4 linked regions of the Homo sapiens genome follow. The protein of the gene in region 4 interacts with the protein of the main gene of each other region in a pairwise test. Each region holds a gene or a part of one and is shown on either strand. Other genes may lie near its edges.

The links. The genes of interacting proteins can lie anywhere in the genome.
Region 1: the proteins of SPAG5 (region 4) and SH2D4A interact in binary tests that used the Homo sapiens proteins (3 or more experiments, as listed by UniProt).
Region 2: the proteins of SPAG5 (region 4) and OSBPL8 interact in binary tests that used the Homo sapiens proteins (3 or more experiments, as listed by UniProt).
Region 3: the proteins of SPAG5 (region 4) and RBM41 interact in binary tests that used the Homo sapiens proteins (3 or more experiments, as listed by UniProt).

Annotation. Positions count from the first base shown.
Region 1 is NC_000008.11:19,330,079-19,334,976, forward strand, and holds part of SH2D4A (SH2 domain-containing protein 4A), read left to right. Parts: intron 1-2,876; coding exon 2,877-3,036; intron 3,037-4,607; coding exon 4,608-4,779; intron 4,780-4,898. UniProt on the Homo sapiens protein: Inhibits estrogen-induced cell proliferation by competing with PLCG for binding to ESR1, blocking the effect of estrogen on PLCG and repressing estrogen-induced proliferation. May play a role in T-cell development and function.
Region 2 is NC_000012.12:76,552,488-76,557,385, reverse strand, and holds part of OSBPL8 (oxysterol-binding protein-related protein 8), read left to right. Parts: intron 1-4,898. UniProt on the Homo sapiens protein: Lipid transporter involved in lipid countertransport between the endoplasmic reticulum and the plasma membrane: specifically exchanges phosphatidylserine with phosphatidylinositol 4-phosphate (PI4P), delivering phosphatidylserine to the plasma membrane in exchange for PI4P, which is degraded by the SAC1/SACM1L phosphatase in the endoplasmic reticulum.
Region 3 is NC_000023.11:107,066,039-107,070,936, forward strand, and holds part of RBM41 (RNA-binding protein 41), read right to left. Parts: intron 4,388-4,898; coding exon of another isoform or gene 4,152-4,387; exon of another isoform or gene 3,365-4,151; coding exon 3,217-3,364; intron 1,656-3,216; coding exon 1,489-1,655; 3' UTR 778-1,488; coding exon of another isoform or gene 770-777; 3' UTR 1-769. UniProt on the Homo sapiens protein: May bind RNA.
Region 4 is NC_000017.11:28,581,050-28,585,947, forward strand, and holds part of SPAG5 (sperm-associated antigen 5), read right to left. Parts: coding exon 4,815-4,898; intron 4,605-4,814; coding exon 4,485-4,604; intron 4,363-4,484; coding exon 4,270-4,362; intron 4,167-4,269; coding exon 4,053-4,166; intron 3,697-4,052; coding exon 3,603-3,696; intron 3,432-3,602; coding exon 3,284-3,431; intron 3,204-3,283; coding exon 3,101-3,203; intron 2,938-3,100; coding exon 2,804-2,937; intron 2,601-2,803; coding exon 2,462-2,600; intron 1-2,461. UniProt on the Homo sapiens protein: Essential component of the mitotic spindle required for normal chromosome segregation and progression into anaphase. Required for chromosome alignment, normal timing of sister chromatid segregation, and maintenance of spindle pole architecture.

The DNA.
Region 1 (4,898 bases), on a different chromosome or scaffold from region 4:
TTTCATTCCTGTATCACCTGCAGCATCTAGCTCTACATCTTGCTAATAGCAAAAACTCATTTTCTGCCTTGTAGAATGAACTACTACGAAGGCCTTGAGAGTCATCCCCTCATCTGATGTGAAGCCGAGGGTATCCCAGCTAACACTCATTATACTAGAACAACTTCCCCCTCCTCCTACAGCTTCAGGGAGTTCATGGAACCACTTGAAGCTCCTCCAGTATCCCCACTCTCTGAGCTCATTGAAGAGCTCTTAGAGGTGAAAAGTCAGCAGAGAGACCATTGTCAGTGCCACTCTGTCAAGAGCCCGTTTTTCAGCATCTCACTAACTCTGACATTTCCCATCTCATTCTCTTTCTTCTTGCCAAGAGCCACTGCTTCTTTATGGTCACTGTGTTCTCTCTGTTACCTCCTTTAAAGCTTTCTTGACTCTGCTCCTCTCCTTTGCTCTCTTCTCTGTGTTTAGCTTTGAAGCCCCAACTGCTCACATGCAGTCCTAGGATTTCTCTCCCCACCTGCAGCAATGCCCCTTTTCCCTAAGAGTTCCTGCCCTGCCCGTAGCCCCTGGAGGCTGTTCTGGAGCTGTTCTGGGCTGTCCTAGCTGAGGTGCTGGAATCCCTCTGCTCTTCCTTTTTCTTCCCCTGGCACAGTGCCACTTGCCATCTTTCTGGGCATCTTCCTCTTGCTGTCAAAAAAAAAATACCGACAGAGAACTACTTAGGTGAAGGCTGAGAGGCTGACATAAAAAAAATATTATTAGTTGGCCTGAGAGAGTGTAATAAAGGGAGTTTTATGAGGTATGACAGCTTTCTAAAGTTAACAAACCATCTGGCATTATGTCAAACAGACAAAGAGCTTGCCAGGAGCTGGCACTGGTGCCCAGCCCCATTTGGGCATGGTGGGATTGACCTTCCCCTCCTTACCTGGAGGCCACATTTGCTGTTTCTCCACAGTGAAAACAGTAAATGGGAATTCTTTGGTAGTGCAGAGTCTGAGTCTGTTCCCTCTGCCCAGCGTCTCTGTTTAGAACATACTGCAGGAGTGTCCACTGTACCAAGAAGGGTAGAAAGGGTCAAAAGAAAGCACGAGCCTGGCTTTGAGCAGCCTGCTTTGGTAATGTATCCCAAGGCCACAGTACAAAAGTCAAGAATACGTTGGACAGAAGACACCTTAATTGGAAACCTCCTTTGACTTAGTGTGAGAGGACAAGACACAATCCCAGTGTGGATGTTTTGCTCATCAAACAGGGCCCAGCACACACACCAGCCAGGTGCCCTCTTCCATGCAGTCAGCACCACTGCTAGTTTGGGGTCTTGACTAGAGGTCCACCTTTGGCCCACAGTTGCCCTGGGTAGGCCTGACAGACTCAGGGATGGTCTCTGTTGGCCTCTCCTAGGTACGCTCCACCTGCCCCCGGTTTAAGGGAGCATGACCGATGTGGCCGCATTTCAGGAGCACTAGGATATAATCTAACCTGGAGGCCAATTGTAAACAAGGGTTATTTAAGTAGCTTCACCAAGTATCATACTACCTGGTTATATTATCTTCTCACAGGCTGGTGTGAATCTCTGAGGCAGCCATATAAGTAAATAATAGGCTAGCAATGATAGCAGTTAACCTCTATTGAACTCCTGTTATGTGGCAGGCACTAGGGGAAGAACTTGGCACAGGTAGCCTGCCTGCCCACAGCAACCCTAGGTAGTAAATATTGGTATTCCCATTTTGCAGATGAGGAAATTGAGTCTAAAGAGTTTAAGAAAGTTGTCCAAGTCACATAGCTCGTAAGTGACAGGGCTAGGATTTGAACTCAAGGTGGTCTAAATCTAAAATACCTCCTTATCTGAGGCAAGAGGATTGCTTGAAGCCAGAAGTTTGAGACCAGCCTGGGCAACAAAGCAAAGCCCTGTCTCTACAAAAAATTTTAAAAATTAGCTGGGCATGGTAATGCATGCCTGCATTCCTAACTACTATGAGCTCACCACTGCACTCCAGCCTGAGTGACAGAGCAAGACACCATTTCTAAAATAAAATAATAAATACAAATAAAATACAATATAAATAAAATAATAAAACCTGCTTTTTACCCACCTATGAAGCCTGTGAATGTAGTACAAATGCCACACCCTTGAGCAGCTGTGGAATTCTGGGTTACAGGGAGATAGTTAGATGTAAGAATTTATGGTGTGAAGTGCTAGCTCTGTTACCCTAAAGGATAATGCAAACAATGAATGCTTGCTTCCCATTTCAGTTTCTTCATTTATAAAATAGGCACATGCAGCCAGGCGCAGTGACTCACACCTGTAATCCCAGCACTTTGGCAGGCTGAGGTGGGTGGATCACGAGGTCAGGAGTTCAAGACCAGCCTGGCCAAGATGGTGAAATCCTGTCTCTACTAAAAATACAAAAATTAGCTGGTCGTGGTGGCAGATGCCTGTAATGGTGAAACCCTGTCTCTACTAAAAATACAAAAATTAGCTGGGCATGGTGGCAGGTGCCTGTAATCCCAGCTACTTGGGAGGCTGAGGTGGGGAACGGCTTGAACCCAGAGGCGGAGGTTGCAGTGAGCCAAGATCATGCCACTGCACTCCAGCCTGGGCAACAGTGTGAGACTGTCAAAAAAAAAAAAAAAAAAAAAAGCACGGGCAAAAAACATACCCCTAATATTTTTAAAACAAATATTTTCACTGAAGCTGCCTCTCACTGCCACCACTGCCATTGCTACCTACAGATGTTCCTGAGCAGTTGGAAGTTCTTTGTCTCATCTGATATATATATATATATTTTCAAAGACCCAAAATACTTTAGTGATGGAAACAGTAATCTGTGACTAAAGATATTTGTTCAATCTGAATTTTTTGTTTGTGTGTTTGTTTGCAGAGAATGGCAAATCGGTTCATTGGAAACTTGGAGCTGATAAGGAAGTCTGGGTATGGGTGATGGGCGAACACCATCTAGATAAACCCTATGATGTGCTCTGTAATGAAATTATTGCTGAGAGGGCCCGGCTGAAAGCAGAACAGGAGGCAGAAGAGCCCAGGTATGAGATCTGCAAACCAACCAGAGACTTAAAGACTCTCCAGACTTTAGAAAACATTGCAAACACACCTCTTGCTCACAGTATCAGGTGGGAGAGTAGGGTTGGGTTGGAGGGTCACAAAAGTCACTTTGGATCTCTTTGGAAGGTTGATTTAGACTTTTGGTCTAAAGACCTTTTGGATCTCTTTAGAAGGTTGATTTAGACTTTTGATCTAAAGTCTTTGATAGCACTAAAGACCTCATGAAAATCTTTAGTGCTGTCAAATCAGCTGCTTCATCTCCCTGCTTGTCATTCCAGTTTTGATCTGTATGAGTGTATGAGTTCCCCAGTGATCACCCGTGGCTGCACTAGAGTCATGTTAGAGCAATGCAGGCCGACGCAGCTGAGTATCAGGAACATATGTGAGAAATGCAGTGACTGTGCAAGCTTCAGGCCTTCCAAGGAGATCACTTAGATACAGGCGGCTGGATAATCAGGCTCTTTAGGTGCCTACCCAGTGCAAGGTACTGGGAATTCAAAGAGAAACAGGGAGCTTCCAGTCTAGGAGGAGAAGTAGACATATGCACAGCTCACTGCGGCCAGTGCAGGCTGTGATTTGTGCTATAATTAAGGTACAAACAGAAAGTTTACCAAGCATAGGTGGGAACCTATCATTCTGATCCACAGACGAGGTGAAATCTGAACCAAACCTTGAAAGGAGTGGTTTTCCAGCTACAGAAGGCCAGGAAGGAAAGTGCAGGCAGAGGGCTTAACCAAGATCCCTAGACTTGACTACGGATGGTTCTTTGGGGAATGATGAGGTCTTCTGAGCATTTGGAATACACTTGGACAACTGCTTCAGAGGCCAGATTTAGGAGTTTGGAACTTATTCTCTGGACGGTGAGGTTTTTCAATAGGGAAGTGACATCAACTGCAGATGTAGGAAGGTAACTCGGAGGGAAACTGAGGCAGGTGATGGCGCTCCTCTGCTGGGTACCTGGGGTGCTCTGGGTGTCCTCCTCTGGCTCTGGGCAGTGATGTTGACAGCCTTACCCTGAGGTGGTGAAGTGGAAATTGGGACAGACATGAGGACCACCGTTCAGTTCCCAAGGGCTAGGGATGCAAAGCAGACTCTGTGGCACAGTGGATGGTGCATTGGACTTTCAAGGGCTGGGATGCTGCCCACTAGTGCCTGTAACTTTAAAACTATCCATGGACATATGAAGATAAAGGAATTATTTAATCATCGATTGGAAGCAGACGGTGTGGTTCTAATAGGTTAACTTCTAAACCAGGAGTTGAGCAGACCAGGGTTCAGATCTTGGCTGTACCACTATGTGGTCTTGGATGAATTACAAAATTTCTTGGAGCTCTTATAACAAAGTGAGGATGACAATGCCTTCCTCACAGGGTTGTGATGAGGATGAAGTTAACGTCTTTACACACCTAGCAAAGGGCCCAGCATGTTAGAAGCACTCAGTAAGTGGTGTCAGTTACTGTTTTTCACATAATTTGAATGTCGACATATGCTTTGGAAAGGCTCTTCCTGTTGAAGAATGTTTTTTGAGAATTTCACTTTTGCCTCTCTTCAGAAAAACTCACTCTGAAGAATTCACCAATAGCTTGAAAACAAAATCACAGTACCATGATCTGCAGGCTCCGGATAACCAGCAGACTAAAGACATCTGGAAGAAAGTGGCAGAAAAGGAGGAACTGGAGCAAGGATCGAGGCCAGCACCAACCCTGGAAGAAGAGAAAATCCGAGTGAGTCCTTACTGTCTGTAGACGTGCGGAATTTCATCATGGGGGAGAAAAAGCTATTGAGGCCACAGAGACTACTGTGGCTGAGTGTCAGGATCCTCCAGTGGCTTTCTTGGGAGAAA
Region 2 (4,898 bases), on a different chromosome or scaffold from region 4:
CTCAGCCTCCCAAAGTGCTGGGATTACAGTCATGAGCCACTGTGTCTGGCGGATCTTTTGTTTAAAAGTATGAATTGCAGAATTTTAACCAGTGTTAGTACATTTCAACTTGGCTTTGGTTTGTAAATAATCCTTCAAAAGTAGATTACTTGAATTAAGGCATTAAAGACAAAGAATTGATACAGTACATAGATCTAGTTTTCTAATATTAATTTGGAAAACTTTTATCCTAATATTATCCTAATAACAATGCCTGAAATGTCATGTTGTAATGTTTGTATTATATTGAAAGTTAAAAACATTTATAGCAATGTTCTTGGAGCATCAGGCAATTCAAAGAGGACATAGGTCCTGCCTTAATCTTACAAATAATGACCTGCAAATAAGACAGAAACACAACTTGAATAAAAAAGCCTTTGAGAGGCCAGGCCCGGTGGCTCACGCCTGTAATGCTAGCACTTTGGGAGGCTGAGGTGGGCAGATCATGAGGTCAGAAGTTCAAGACCCGCCTGGCCAACATGGTGAAACCCCGTCTCTACTAAAAATACAAAAAAATTAGCTGGGCGTGGCAGTGTGTGCCTGTAATCCCAGCTACTTGGGAGGCTGAGGCAGGAGAATCGCATGAACCCAGGAGACAGAGATTGCAACGAGCCAAGATCATGCCATTGCACTCCAGCCTGGGCGATAGAGCAAGACTCAGTCTCAAAAAACACCAAAAAAACAAAAAGCCTCTGAGAAATATACAATTTTTAGTGAAGGTGGCTGGGTACAAGGAGATTAGTAGAAGTGCTTGACTGGAGCAGTTGTGGCCAAAGTATAGCTTCCTTGTGATGAGACACAGGAAGAGATGTCTAGACTCATGTTGTGTGCATATTTCATGGCAGTATGTGGGAAACCCCTGAGAGATTTTAGATCTTTCTTCCCACCTTGGTCCCCATCCCTCACATATCCTCACAAAGTCATAAAATTCTCATGTGGAAGGCGTGATAGAAGGAATTTTTCTTCCTGAAAAGTGTTATCAAGCTTGCAAGGGAGAGAGCTATTTTCGGAGACCTTATAGGGAAGAAATCCTAGTCCTAGAGCATCATATTCTTATACCCTGTTATTTTTACCTTTGTCGAAGATCCAGATAATGTAAATTCTCCATGATAGCAAGGACCTTGTCTGTTTTGCTCACCATTGAATCTCCAAATGTTCAATAGTTAATGAATGAAAAAAGTCTACTTCCAGATATATGACTGGAGAACAAAAGGAGTATCTGATAATGTAGTCCAAACTAAATGCAAGCAGCGAAATGATAAAGGAAGGATGTTAGCTTGGGAGAAGGGGAACAGGTCATTTAATCTGGGAAACTTTCTTGGAGGAGGTGATTCTTGAGTTAGGTTTTGGTGTGGGCTGTGTGTCTGAAGATAAGCAGTGTCTAAGGGGGTAGACAACGTGCAGCAAAGCATTTAAGTCAGACTGAATAAATTATGTCAGATAAAGCACAGTAAGTCTTTTTTTGTAACATTATGAAGAATTTTTATTCTCCCATCTCTATTTTCACCTCTCCCTAAATAAAAAGATTAACTTGCTTTGCAACAGCAGAGATTGACAGTACTTGAGTTTTGGAAGTACGATAAGGGTCAGAAAATTTGAATTGGTGTTCTGACTGAATCTTATACAAGCGTCGTTTCCATCGGCCAATCACTTGGTCTTAGTTTTCTCATTTGTAAAATCAGGATAATAATCCATGATCGTTGGGAGAACAAAGTTATATAATGCATGTGAAAGTGCATACCTCAATATGAATGTGCCTACCTCAATGTGTCACACATAGGAGGACTTCAGCAAATACAAAATTATTAAAACGTTTGTCTGCAGATCTTTAAAACATATTTTGATTCGTTTATCATGAACTCTAATATTTGCTTGACTCATCTAGATGACTCATGGCATTATGTTTAAATTGATCAGAATCAAAATTCTAGATAATTTTCTTTCAGTCAGTTTAATGTTTTCTGGTAGAAATGAGGCCTAATTGTATTACTGCTTAATGTTACAGACCACAAGGAGTGCTAGAAGCCTCAAATTTTTGAAGCTCAAAGTAAGGGATATGTGTAGCTGAAAATCTGAGCCTTTAAGCTTTTTTTCTCTACGTAATTTGTTTTTGAAGAAATTGTCTTTGCCTGTAATGTCATTTATCTATTCATTGTTGTGATGAAATAAGGGGTTTTCTGGTTGTTAAGAAAAAATTTACCAAAAATATTTTCTGTTTTTAGTGATGTGACTATAAGCCATGAAGATCTCTACCATCTGTGTTTTATTATAAAATTCAGTATTTCTTGAGCAAACAAACAGACATCTGCATTATTTCTTATCTAAGCTTTTTGTGCCAGTAGCTGTTCATTTATGAATCTCAGAATTTCATTATACTTTGTGAACTCTTTGTAGTGTTTTTGATCCATGGAGCAGTCTGTCCTTTGTATAATATTTGGAAGAGAATTTTATTATAAAAAGACTAAGAAGAGTCTTGAGCCTTTTTATTATACAAAGACTAAGAAGAGTCATCAAATGATAAGCCAGTTACCTACTAATTTCCATATTCAAAAAGGACTGAAAAAAAGAGGAAATGGTTTCAGAGCTTGACTTTTTTCAAATAAAAAGGAGAAGCTTTTTGATTTAGAGTTTTTGAAAACTTGATAGATTCAGAGGGAAATTGTTATAGGTCATATTAATAGCTAATGTGCGTCAACTGCTATATACCAGGTACTGTACTACTCTAGAAGTACTTGACATGTCATCACATTTGATCCTGACAACCACCCCGCAATCAGGCTATTTTCTTTTTTTTAAACCTGAGCAACTGACAGATTAAATAAGTGGTGGAGCCAGGATTTGAACTAAACCTGAGGCACAGAGAAGTTAAGTAGTAGGTGGTAGAGCCTACTAAAAGGATTTAAACTTGAGGTTTAACCTGACCTTTGACTTTGGAGCCTATCCTTTTAACCATCATATTATATACTGCCTTGTATAATTTATTTGCAGTTGCTCCTCTTGATACGTCTTGACCTTGTGATCTTCCTGAGTCTGTTTTAGTTGTGTCATTTACAAAATGCACTTTACTTTATAAGAAGATGGAATATAGCCTTGATTTTTTTTCTCTCATTTTACTTGTATTTGACTGACATCCTATTTTTAAATCTTAAAAATACTTAGAGTAAAGCAAATATTTATTTTATTGTTCATCCAGTTGCCATTTTCTCACTGGGGAATTTCAGAGAATTTCGGAGTAACTGGAAATTAAAGAACATAATAGATAACAGTATTTAAAGCTAAGTTGTTATAATTAAAAAATAGTTTTAAAGAATAAGGCTGATTCACAGAATTGGTATGCATTTTTTTTTAGTGTTTTTTTTTTTTTTTTTTTGAGATAGAGTCTCACTGTGTCACCTAGGCTGGAGTGCAGTAGTGTGATCTTGGCTCACTGCAACCTCTGCCTCCCGGTTTCAAGTGATTCTCATGCCTGAGCCTCCTGAGTAGCTGGGATTACGGGTGCATGCCACCATGCCCAGCTAATTTTTTGTATTTTTAGTAGAGATGGGGTTTCACCATATTGGCCAGGCTGTTCTCGAACTCCTGACGTAAAGTGATCCACCTGCCTCGTCCTCCCAAAGTGTTGAGATTACAGGCGTGAGCTACCTCCTCTGGCCTTTTTTTTTTTTCTTCTGATACAGGGTCTTGAGCTGTCACCTAGGCTGGAGTGCAGTGGCACTCACTACCATGGCTCACTGCAGCCTCGACCTCCCAGGCTCAAGTGATCCTCCTGTCTCTGCCTCCCAAGTAGCTGGGACTACAGGCGAATACCATCACACCTGGCTAATTTTTAAGTTTTTTTTTTTTTTTTTAGAAACAGAGTCTCACTATGTTGCCCAGCTTGGTCTTGAACCCCTAGCCTCAAATGATTCTCCCACCTTGGTCTCCCAAAGTGCTGGGATTATAGATGTGAGCTGCCATGCCAGGCCTATTTAGTGATATTTGAGGGACACAGATCTGTACAGTTGAAATCTGTCCTGTTGAGATGACCACCAGTAAGGTAATTTTTGCTTTTTGGCTGCCAAATGCCTACATATTAGCAGGAATAGTTTGTCAGATTACATAATTTTTTACAAGGAAGGCTGGGGCCCATGTGGAAATTATGGAATCTATGTTGGTATATTTTGATGGGATGGAAGTATGGTAGATCTGGAGAGAGAGAAGTTCAATCTAAGTAACATTATTACCGGGTAGAGTAATGAGGTGGGGTGCTTTGGATGTGAGGGCACAGGTACATTGTTCAAGTGGAGAGTAGGATGAGGGACTTCTGGAGACTAGCTTTGCTTAGTGTGTAATTTTGTGCATTGTTATGATTATAATAACTTGTAAGATCAGCAATTTGGAAGTAAAGAAAAGCAGTGCTGTGCATCATAGTGTGGAGTTTGTAATAGTTCTAGGCTGTTTTGCAAGATGTAGGTGCTTTACAAATATCCATTGGTAGTAATGGAAGTGCTCTGTCTTATCACCTATTTTAGAAATCTGGAGAGGCAGAATAGCACGAACCCTGGAGCCAGACTGCCAAAGTTCAGAACTGGTACAGCCACTTACTAGCCTATTGCACTGGCCCTATGCTGACTTGGGGTGGCCAAAAGGGAAGAAAATGGCATATTTAAGCAGAGAGGGGGCCAGAGATAGCACTCTGTGAGTTTTCCATGGTTCTTACATGGTCTGAAAGAGATCTGGATGTTCTCACATATGACTAGTGAAGGAAATAGAAGTTAGTAGAGTGAGAGCCAGGAAGCCTGTCATTAGGCTGCTATTGTGAGGGAGGGACCATGTAGTAGACAGAGGTTGTGGGAAGGGCAGATTCATTTCATTGCCCA
Region 3 (4,898 bases), on a different chromosome or scaffold from region 4:
TATGTGAGATGTTTTATTTCACGTTCATTTTTGAAAAATAGTTTTATTGTATATAGGATTATTGGTTGACAGTTATTTTCTTTGAACACTTTGAATGTGTTATTCCACTGCCACTGCCATTGTTTCTGAGGGGAAGTCAACTACTAATTTTATTTGGGTTCCTTGGTAAGTGATGGCTCATTTTTCTCGTATTGCTGTTAAGATTTTCTTTTCGTTTTTGGGTTTTAGCATTTTTCTTATGATGTATCTGTCTGTAATTTCTTTTTCTTCTGGGATGTATAGGTTAATGTCTCTCATCAAATCGGGGGTATTTATAGCCATTATTTCTTAGAATATTTTTCTGCTCCTTCATTTCTTTTCCTTTTTTCCTGTACTCCCATTAGAAATATGTAGGAATGCTTAATGGTGTCACACAGGTTCTATACTCTTGTTCAATTTTATTCATTGTTTTCCTTTCTGTTCTTCAGCCTGGATAATATCTCAGTTCATCTTCACAACCCAGTGAGGTAAGTAGCATTATTATCCTCACTTTATAGATGAAAAATGTGAGGCTCAGATTAAGTGACTTGCCAAGGTCATAGAATGTTAAGTGTGGCTGTACAGGTCTGACTCCAGTTTGTACTACTTCCTCTCTGTATATTGTTTTTTTATTTTCCAGCAACCATAAACAAACAACTGGGGGATTTGTGACTGGCATCCTCTTTTCTAGAGAACGCTTTATTTCCATTTCCGTTTGGCATTCTTTGCTTGTATGTTCCTCTTCTAAAATTCATATGCCTAATATTTAACATATATTAGACACTTAATCAATGTTTATTGCTATGAATTCAATGATACTCAATGGTTGCTAGCTTAAATGGCTGTGAGAACACCAACATTTTGATCTAAAATATTTCACTAGAAAAATATATAGCTTTTTGAAGACTGATAACTTGTGGAGGAAGCATTCATTAAATAAGTCAACTGACTTATGAAACTACCTACTATTACTGCTGATAGTTCTGACTTAATAGCATTTGTTGATGCTTAGGCCTGGGGGTCCTACTCTTTTATTTACTAGGTGGATGAAATATGGCAAATGGGCTCTAGTAAAGAAATATTTCAACATTTAATTAGTTTTTTATTTCTGTGTATACGAAGCAGTCTAAGAAAGAATGTTATCTCTAGAGACAAATATTGAGGACCCCAGAAAAATTATAAAGATTTTTAAAAATCCTTAGGAATAATCCGTTGTAATTCATCCTGAGAAAATAATACTCTTTGCACTTTACCCTTCATACTCAGCATATCATCTGTCCTATATAGTCTTCAATTATATAATAGAAAATGTTTTCTACCAGTTCTCTCCAAAAGCTGAAATTACTTTTTTCCCCTCCCTCAGTTAGTTTTTCCTCTTCAACTCCAAACAAACTGGTGTCTATACATAAATCCTAGATCCAAGATTCCAATTCAAGAAAGACCATCCAGGACCCACAATTTATATATATTCTAGCTACCACTAATTTCTGTAGTGCTACCTGTAGCACATGATATGAGAGAAGTCGCTTGGAGATTTGACCGTTGCTTTTTGTTCTTTCCAAACTCTATCACCAATATTTTCCCATGTAGTTTGTATCCATTTACTAGATGCAATGCTTGCCATGCTATCTCCTTATCTAAAAGAGAAAGAAAAAATTTCAATTTACATAGGACTTAATAATTCAATTCTATTCCAGGTTTAGTTTAGATTATTTTGCCTTGGAGTTAAATGTAAGCTATAAGGCCATATAGTCATTTGATTTGATCATTTTTTCTATAATCTCCCATTTGCATTATTAAGCAAAATTAAATTAATGGCAAAAATAATAACAATAAAAACTCAAAATCGGTGTTTGAGGGTGTCTCCTAATTCAAAGAAACAAGTAGAGAAACAAAGACATAGGCAGCGTGCTAAAGAAGTCTAAGCTATTAGTAATTATACACAAGTCTCTATCTTAGGTAACAGATTATAGGTATTATTAGAATCAATCATTTTCAAAATGAGTAACACAAAAGAAGTTATCATGTTATCAAGGGCACTTTGCCACTTTTTTTTCAGTGGGAGAGTGGTTCTGGGCCACCTTATTGGGATAAATAAGTATAAGAACACTTGTAGGCATATTGAAGGTTGAAATGTGAGAATATATACTACATGCCAGGAGTATTCAACTTATGGGTCTAAGAGCCTGGATGTAAGAAATAAGGAAGGGATGATTTGTGGCCAGGAGTTTGTGGAATCCTAAGTAGACAAGTAGACTAAACCAATTTTGTTTCATATATATAAGTACTACAAATTTTTTTAAGTGTATAGCTTTCAAGATTAGTAAAACAGCTACACATTTTAAAGTACTTGCTTTAAAAAGCCTTTTTATTATGTATTTTTTCAACTAATACATCGTATTATGTGGGGCACCCATAAACGGTTTTTTAAATTTAAAAGGGGTTCTTACACTTGAAAAGACTGAAAACCACTGGTATAGCGGATTTAAAAACCTTCAGTATGATAGGAAAGATGATACAAGACTGTATGAAAACAATGGAGGGGAGTTTGGCAGTATTCATGTGTAAAACCACTTGCCCACATATAGATTAATAGGCTATTTAGAAATGACGATACTTTAGGGACAATGAAAGGTACAGATCCTACAAAGCCTTCCCCCAAAACAACATATTATCTGGTCTGTCATAGAAACTGAAATTTGCATATTATTCTTCCAGTTGGATTAGAAGCTATGCATTAATTAATATGCAAATAATATTTAGAAGACTGTATCATCATCTACTAATTATGAATTAGTAATAAATTAGTATATTAGCTTGCTCTCACTTAGTCCTAAAGGAACAGCGCATAAGCCAAGTACATGTGTTCTGATCAGAATACTAATACATTAATTAATGAGTAATCTAATTATAACTTGGACTAGAAATACTATTGTCAGTGAAGGGAGTACAGATTTTGGTAGGGTAAGAAGGAAGTACCAAGACTGGGAAAAACTGAGGACACTGGGGTAGTGTGGCCATGCACTGTCAATGGAGGAGAGGAAACAGAAAGAAACACTGAAAACATATTTTTCGTTCATTGTCTTGTTCTCACATGCTGTGGAGAAATCAAAGGACTATATCTAAATTAGAGAGGTTATAGGTAATCTCTAGCGAACTGAGGGGCAACTGAGTAATCATCTGGATGAAACTACTTACTGGGAAAGGTGATAAAAGCCTGGCCCCTCATTCGTCCAGTCATCATTCGGAATTGAATTGGAGGTCCTTTTTTCTCCTGGAACCGAGCGAACAATGACACAAGATCTCTTTCAGTCACCCGAGGGCTAAGGTTCTTCAGGTATAATACCTAAAACAAATTGAGGATCAACCAAAATATCATATAAAGGAGGTAAGGCACTCTTTGTTTTTTTCTTTTTGAGACAAAGTCTCACTCTGTCACCCAGGCTGGAGTGCAGTGGCGCAATCTCTGCTCACTGCAACCTTGGCCTCCCAGGCTCAAGTGATTCTCATGCCTCAGCCTCCCGAGTAGCTGGGATTACAGTCATGTGCCACCACACCTGGCTAATTTTTGTATTTTTAGTAGACGTGGGGTTTCACCATGTTGTCCAGGCTGGTCTTGAACTCCCAAACTCAGGTGATCCACCCGCCTTGGCCTCCCAAAATGCTGGGATTACAGGCGTGAGACACCATGCTCAGCCGTAAGAAAACTCTTTCATTATGATTAGAATTAGTTTCACATAAAAATGGTGGATTGAACACATTCATTTAATTTCATTCCATCCAGAAAACTCTCTAAAACTATAGGCACTTAAAAAAAAAAAAAAAAAAACACAAATCAACAAGGTCAGGAGGAACAAGAAAAGGAGACAACAGCAATAATAATCTGGAAGATGAAAAATAATTGGATGAGCAGGAACCAACTCAGCACACTGAAGAAAGCTGAATTTTAAACTGGTAGTGGAGAGAGCCAAGAACACACCTGTCACCACTTAAGAATCCTTAAATAGTTCAGGAACTGATAATTTCACTTACCTTCAGAAATAAATGTGAAGGGATGGGGTTAAAATAAGGCAAATCAGTTGAAGGCTGTCTAAAAGCCAATATGATTTTTAAATACCCTCCCTCACAATATGCTATGGGGTAAAAGATAACTTGCCAATCCTGGTAGAAAACTTGAGGCTCATTGTCAGAAGATGGGGAATGCCATACATGGCTGAAGATGTGAACACTGTTTCTGAAAGCAAGGAAACTAAGAGAATACTAAATGTTGAGGTCCTCCCAGTCCTTTTCTGCCATTTGGCTCCTAGAACGCTGGTAGTACCCTCGTAAGAAAGATTTTGGAAGTCTTCTCTGGGAAAACTGGTAAGTCCTAGGAGGAAAGATATAAAAATACTGACTTGGGATGAGGAATTTCTCTAACAAATGACCCAGCCAGACCACTTTAAAGTGAAGCTCAAAGTCAACAAGTGCCATTTGTGTGCTCAGAGATTCCAATCTGCTTTTTAGTTCCTACTTATAAAGTTGGGCATGGATTATCAGGCATCTTAGGAACTCCTCTAATGTGAAAGAGAGAACACAACAAACATAAAGAAAAGAAAGGAAATAGGAAAAAACTTCAACAAACCATAACTAATATCCTCAGGAAAATAAGAGAAATTATTCTACCTATTAGGCGGCACGGGAGGGTAGGTGCGGTGGCTCACTCCTGTAATCCCAGTGCTTTGGGAGGCTGAGATGAGAGGATCGCTTGAGTCCAGGAGTTTGAGATCAGTCTGGGCAACACAGTGAGACCCTGTCTCTGCAAAAGAGACAGGGTGGCATGTGCTACTTGTGAGCAAACAGCATGCACCACCACAACTGGCCAATTTTACAAGTCCCAG
Region 4 (4,898 bases):
TAGAGCAGGGAGAGGGAAGGCTAGCAAATTGTGGCCTACAGGTCAAATCTAGCCTGCCAACTATTTTTGTAAATAAAGTTTTATTGGAACACAGCCAGACCCATTAATGGCTGTATCATCTATGGCTGCTCTTGAACTACAAAGGCAGAATTGAGTAGTTGAGACAGAGACCATATGGCCCAAAAAGCCAAAAATACTTATTATATGGCCATTTATAGGAAAAGCTTGCTGGCCTCAGTCCTGAAGTAGCTGTGCTTGTGGCTGCGGCTGCTAACTGGCTGCGCACAGGTAAGGCCAGGCAAGGCGGGAGCCACTCAACATCTCCGCTTCATTTCCTTGGCTCTTCCCCTGCCATCCTCGTCCTGCTACCTGGGACTCCGGGATGTGCCCTTTCGACCCTTTCCTAACATCTTTGCTCCTTTCCGCGTACTTGAAACCCCATGGCTCAACCTCTTCTGTTCTATCCCTCTTCAGCTCTCCCAGCTGGACCTCAGCTTTTCCAATCCCAAATCCTCCTCTACTTGTTGGATTTTTCCTTGGAGTCTGTCTCTCCTACCCAGAGCATTTCCTTCTCAGCCTGCTCCCTCTCCTCCTAGGCTAGGTCCTCTCTCCAGTTCTCCCGCCTTCTCTGCCCCCCGGTCTAGGTCTCTCCCGCTGACTGGTTAGCCTGAGTCACCACTAGCTCCCCTCAGTCTCATCTCTCTCTCAGGCTCTCTACTCCTTTCAGCCTTGGTCCTCTGCCCTCCCGTCTGGGTGTCTGAGTTGTGGGGAATTGAAGTGCTTCCTATTGCTATCCCTCCTGCCACACAGGTTGAAGTGCTTCCTGGGCACAGAGCTGACCCGGAGGTGTCACTAGCCCTAGTCTCCACACACTAACACAGCTGACCCGCTGGGCCCTCTTTCCTAGCAATCTAAGGATCATCATTCACTCTTCTAACTTACTCTCACATCAAATTGGTCACTCTTACATCAAATTGGTTCTACTGCCTCTGCTTCCTAAATATCTATTGAATCCATTCACTCCATCCTCTCCTTTCTACTGCCTATAAAACTGCCATTATTTCAAGCCTTCAAAATCTGGCCTCCTGCCTACTTCTCCAGTGTTGTCTCCTGCCTTGCCCCACAGAGCTCTCACGCTGCAGCCATGAAGAGCTGCTTCCCATTCCTCAGACTTGCTGCATTCCATATGAGCAGCATCTTGCCTTGTTCATCCTCTAGTCCCAGCACCTAACCCAGGTTTTATAAGGTAGACACTATAAAAAAGAACACATCATGTACTATGTGCATGACTTTCTACGTACGACTCTCATATGTAGTCAGATGAAACTTTCATACACCGTTCCCTCTGCCTAGTGGGACTTCCTAAATACCCTCCCCTGCCCCACAAACGTCTAAACCTCAAGACTGTACCCAAGGTCAGCTGCTTTGAGAAGGCATCCTAATTCTCGAAGGCTGAAGTGGTGCTCCCCTCTCTATCTCTCACAGTGGTCCATGCAGACCTCTACCATGATCATAAGTCAAGATGACAAGTTTACATCTGTTTGTCTTCCATGCTAAACTGTAGATTTGATGGCATTTCCTGTGCTCGGTACCCAGTTGGGGAAGAGGATCAGGTCATAAGCAATTGCCAGATTTTAGGATATTTGTTGTGCCTTATCTGCTGAATAAGCTAATTACCTTTGTATTCTGAATGATGTCAACCATTTATTGTTTAGTGCACACTGCAGGGAGGCCAAAGAAGGCTATATTTCTGCTTTCTTGAAACATAGTCTGGTTGAAGAGACCAGGTATCCAAGGAAAATTAATACAAATACAAAAGAAGAGTAAGTTCATGAGAAATATGGCAGAAGAAAAGATCACCGGGTCCACATGATTTGATTTGGGAACAGTTCAAAGAAGGTAAACCAGGGAAGATTTCTTTTTTTGTGGGGGAAAGGGTTTCACTCTCACCCAGTTTGGAGTGCAGTGATACAAAAAAATTAGCCAGGTATGATCATGGCTCACTGCAGCCTCAACTTCCCAGGCTCAGGTGATCCTCTCACCTCAGCCTCCCAGATAGCTGGGACTACAGGTTCACAACACTACACCTGGGCTAATTTCTGTATTTTTTTGTAGAGATGGTTTTCACCACGTTGCCCAGGTCGGAAGGGAGGATTTTAATAGAAAAGGCATTTCCAGTTTGAAGAAAGAATAGAATGAATGTGGGAACAGCCAGAGTCTGGGTTCTGGGGATAAAAATGGGGACATGTGTGTAGCATACAGGCAGTCTAGCTGGGGCAAAGTGTTCATAATAGGGAGATAGGAGACAGGGGAAGAAAGGTTTGAGCAACAGGCTAATGAGGTCCTGTAGGTAACTGAAATCATAAAAGGTCACAGTTAGAAAAAGAGTAATGTTTTAGGAAGACTATCTGTAAAATAAAGATACAATTGGAAGAGAAGAGAAGGAACCCCAGGATCCTACCTTCTCCTTTAGTTTTGTCTGTAGAAAGAGAGTCAGGCTCTGTAGTTGCTCAGTCAGCAGCCCTAGCTTTTGAGAGTACTGCCGTGTTTTCTCCAGATCTTGCTCCTGGTTATCTGCTATGGTGCTGGCCAGTTTAGCCCTGAAATAAGGAACAGGGAAGATGACCAAAGACCAAATTACCTTCTCTGAACGCCTATCCCAAATCCCCACAGAGCTGCATTAAAGGAGAGAAACAAGAGGCTCAACACTCACAGTTCTCTTCTTGGAGATTTTGGCTTCTAGAAGTGTTCCTGAGAAAAAAATAAGCACTTAGGGGGAAGTACAGAAAGTTAGAGAACTTACGTTAGGTTCTCTACAGTGTCCTTGAGGTTCTCACACTGCAAGCTGCGCTCCCGGAGCACTTCCAGTGTGGTTTTCAATTGACACTCAACCTGACCCAGCTCCAGGTGAGCAACCTGATTCTCCTGGTCTGCAAACTGGGAAGACAAGAGAAGGAGCAAGACAGGGAGGGAGAATTTTAGTGCCCTGGGTACAGAGGCTTTTTCTAGTTCACAGTCTCAAACCTTACCTCAACACTATCAGGCAAGAATCACACTCCTGAGGCTTACCAGCTCCCTTGGCCCAAGCCATATTCCTTACCTCCAAGGTCTCTTTCAGGTCCCGCACCTCTTTGGCCAGGACAGCTTGTTGCTGCTGCAGTTCTGCCTGCATGTGTTTTAGTGCCATCTCTTCCTTTTGCCATCTGCCAGAGACAACATATTAGATCCCATTTGGTCCTAAATCCTGGATGCCTACTGCCACAGTACCCCGTTAGGAACTCACTGAGCAGCCTGCTCCTCATTGCTCTGGGTAAGCTGGCAGAGTAACTCATCCTTCATAGCCAGGTCCTGGGCACAATGGGTATGCTGACTCTGTAGCTCTTTTAGCTGGCTGTCCATGTTGGCCAGAATCTGCAACTGAGCCCGGAGATCTAGAACAAAAGTATCCTAATGACACCATGCGGTCAGCAGGCTAGAAACTCCCCAAACTTCTGCTCCAAAGCAAGTGCTCCTGAGTACTTCCTTGCTCTAGTGCCACACTCCAAGCCTTAACAGGGCTCAAATGCTTACATGCATGCATACACACACACACACACAAACACCTGTTGCTAGACGACTGTTTTCCAACTCCAGTTGTTCTGTTTGGCCTTTGCACTCCTCTAACTGGGCAGAGACTTGTTCCAGCACCCTAGAAACCTAGGAAGAACAGATGGTTTTCCTCCTATAGTTCCTCCTGAATCAATAATCCCAGGACTTGGTCCAGCTTCTCTTTCTGGACAAGACAGAAAACTACCTTGCTCCTGGGCATCAACATTGCAGAAAATAAGGTTGATCCTCAGGAAAAAGTAGAGACAGGAGAAAAGTTGCTGAAGTAAAGATGCTGAAGGGCAAAGGAAAAAACTGCGCTTAAGGCCATCTTACAGCTAAGAGACCTTACTGGCTGGCCTCCAAACCCACAGGGTGAAAAGAAAACAGATCCAGGGTAAGAGGCTAATGGTATCACACATTAGGAAGGAAACCAAGCCTAAGCAGTCCCCACTCTTGGTTTGTACCTCCTGCTTTTCCTCAATTGCCACATCACGTTCCTGCAGGGCTTGCTGGCTCTTGACTGTGAGTTTCTCTGTGAGTTGTCGGGACCGACTCAGCAAAGCTGTCCATGTTGTATACTACCAGGGGAAGCAAGCAGGTCAGTAGAGCACACTTGAGGCAAAGCTCACAACAGGACTTGATGTGAGTAAGGAATTAGTTATGATGGTCCCAAATACTCACATCCAGTTGCATGGACCTCCAGTCTTGTTGCAAGGTAGAAGTAAGACTCACTGTCTGCTGAACCAGCTCTTCTTGCTTGGCATGAAGCCCTACCTACAAAAGAAAGATTGCCTAGGCGGGAACCCCTTCCCTTTGGATACAGCAAAGTGGGAGTATGCAACTACCCTCCCAGTCTGTCAGCACAGACCCCAGGAAAGAAAATGCCCTTAAATTACCAGTTGGGTCTGGGCATCCTTCAGAAGGCCTCTGAATTCCCGCATGGATGCTAGGTCCTGTTCCAGCTGGCTGATGCGCTGGCTGGCGTGTGCACAGAAAGCCTCCAACACTATCTCTGCCTATTGAGGGAAGTGGTTGCAAGGCCACAGTGGGCAACAGGGGAGCCAGCACAAAAAGATGTAACCATGACACCTCAATAGATCAGTTCTTTACTGCCCAGGGCAGGCAGTTCTTAGGCCACCCATCTGTGTCTAAAGTGCATTTGTGTTCCTGCAGGAACCTTGAGGTGGAAACCTCCCACATCCAAGAACAAATGCCTGTCACCTTACCGCATCCTTGCCTCTGAGAGCCATTTCCTCTCTGTGCCTTGCCTCCTCCCTTTCTGCTTTGAGGCTCTGGAGCTTTGCCCTCAA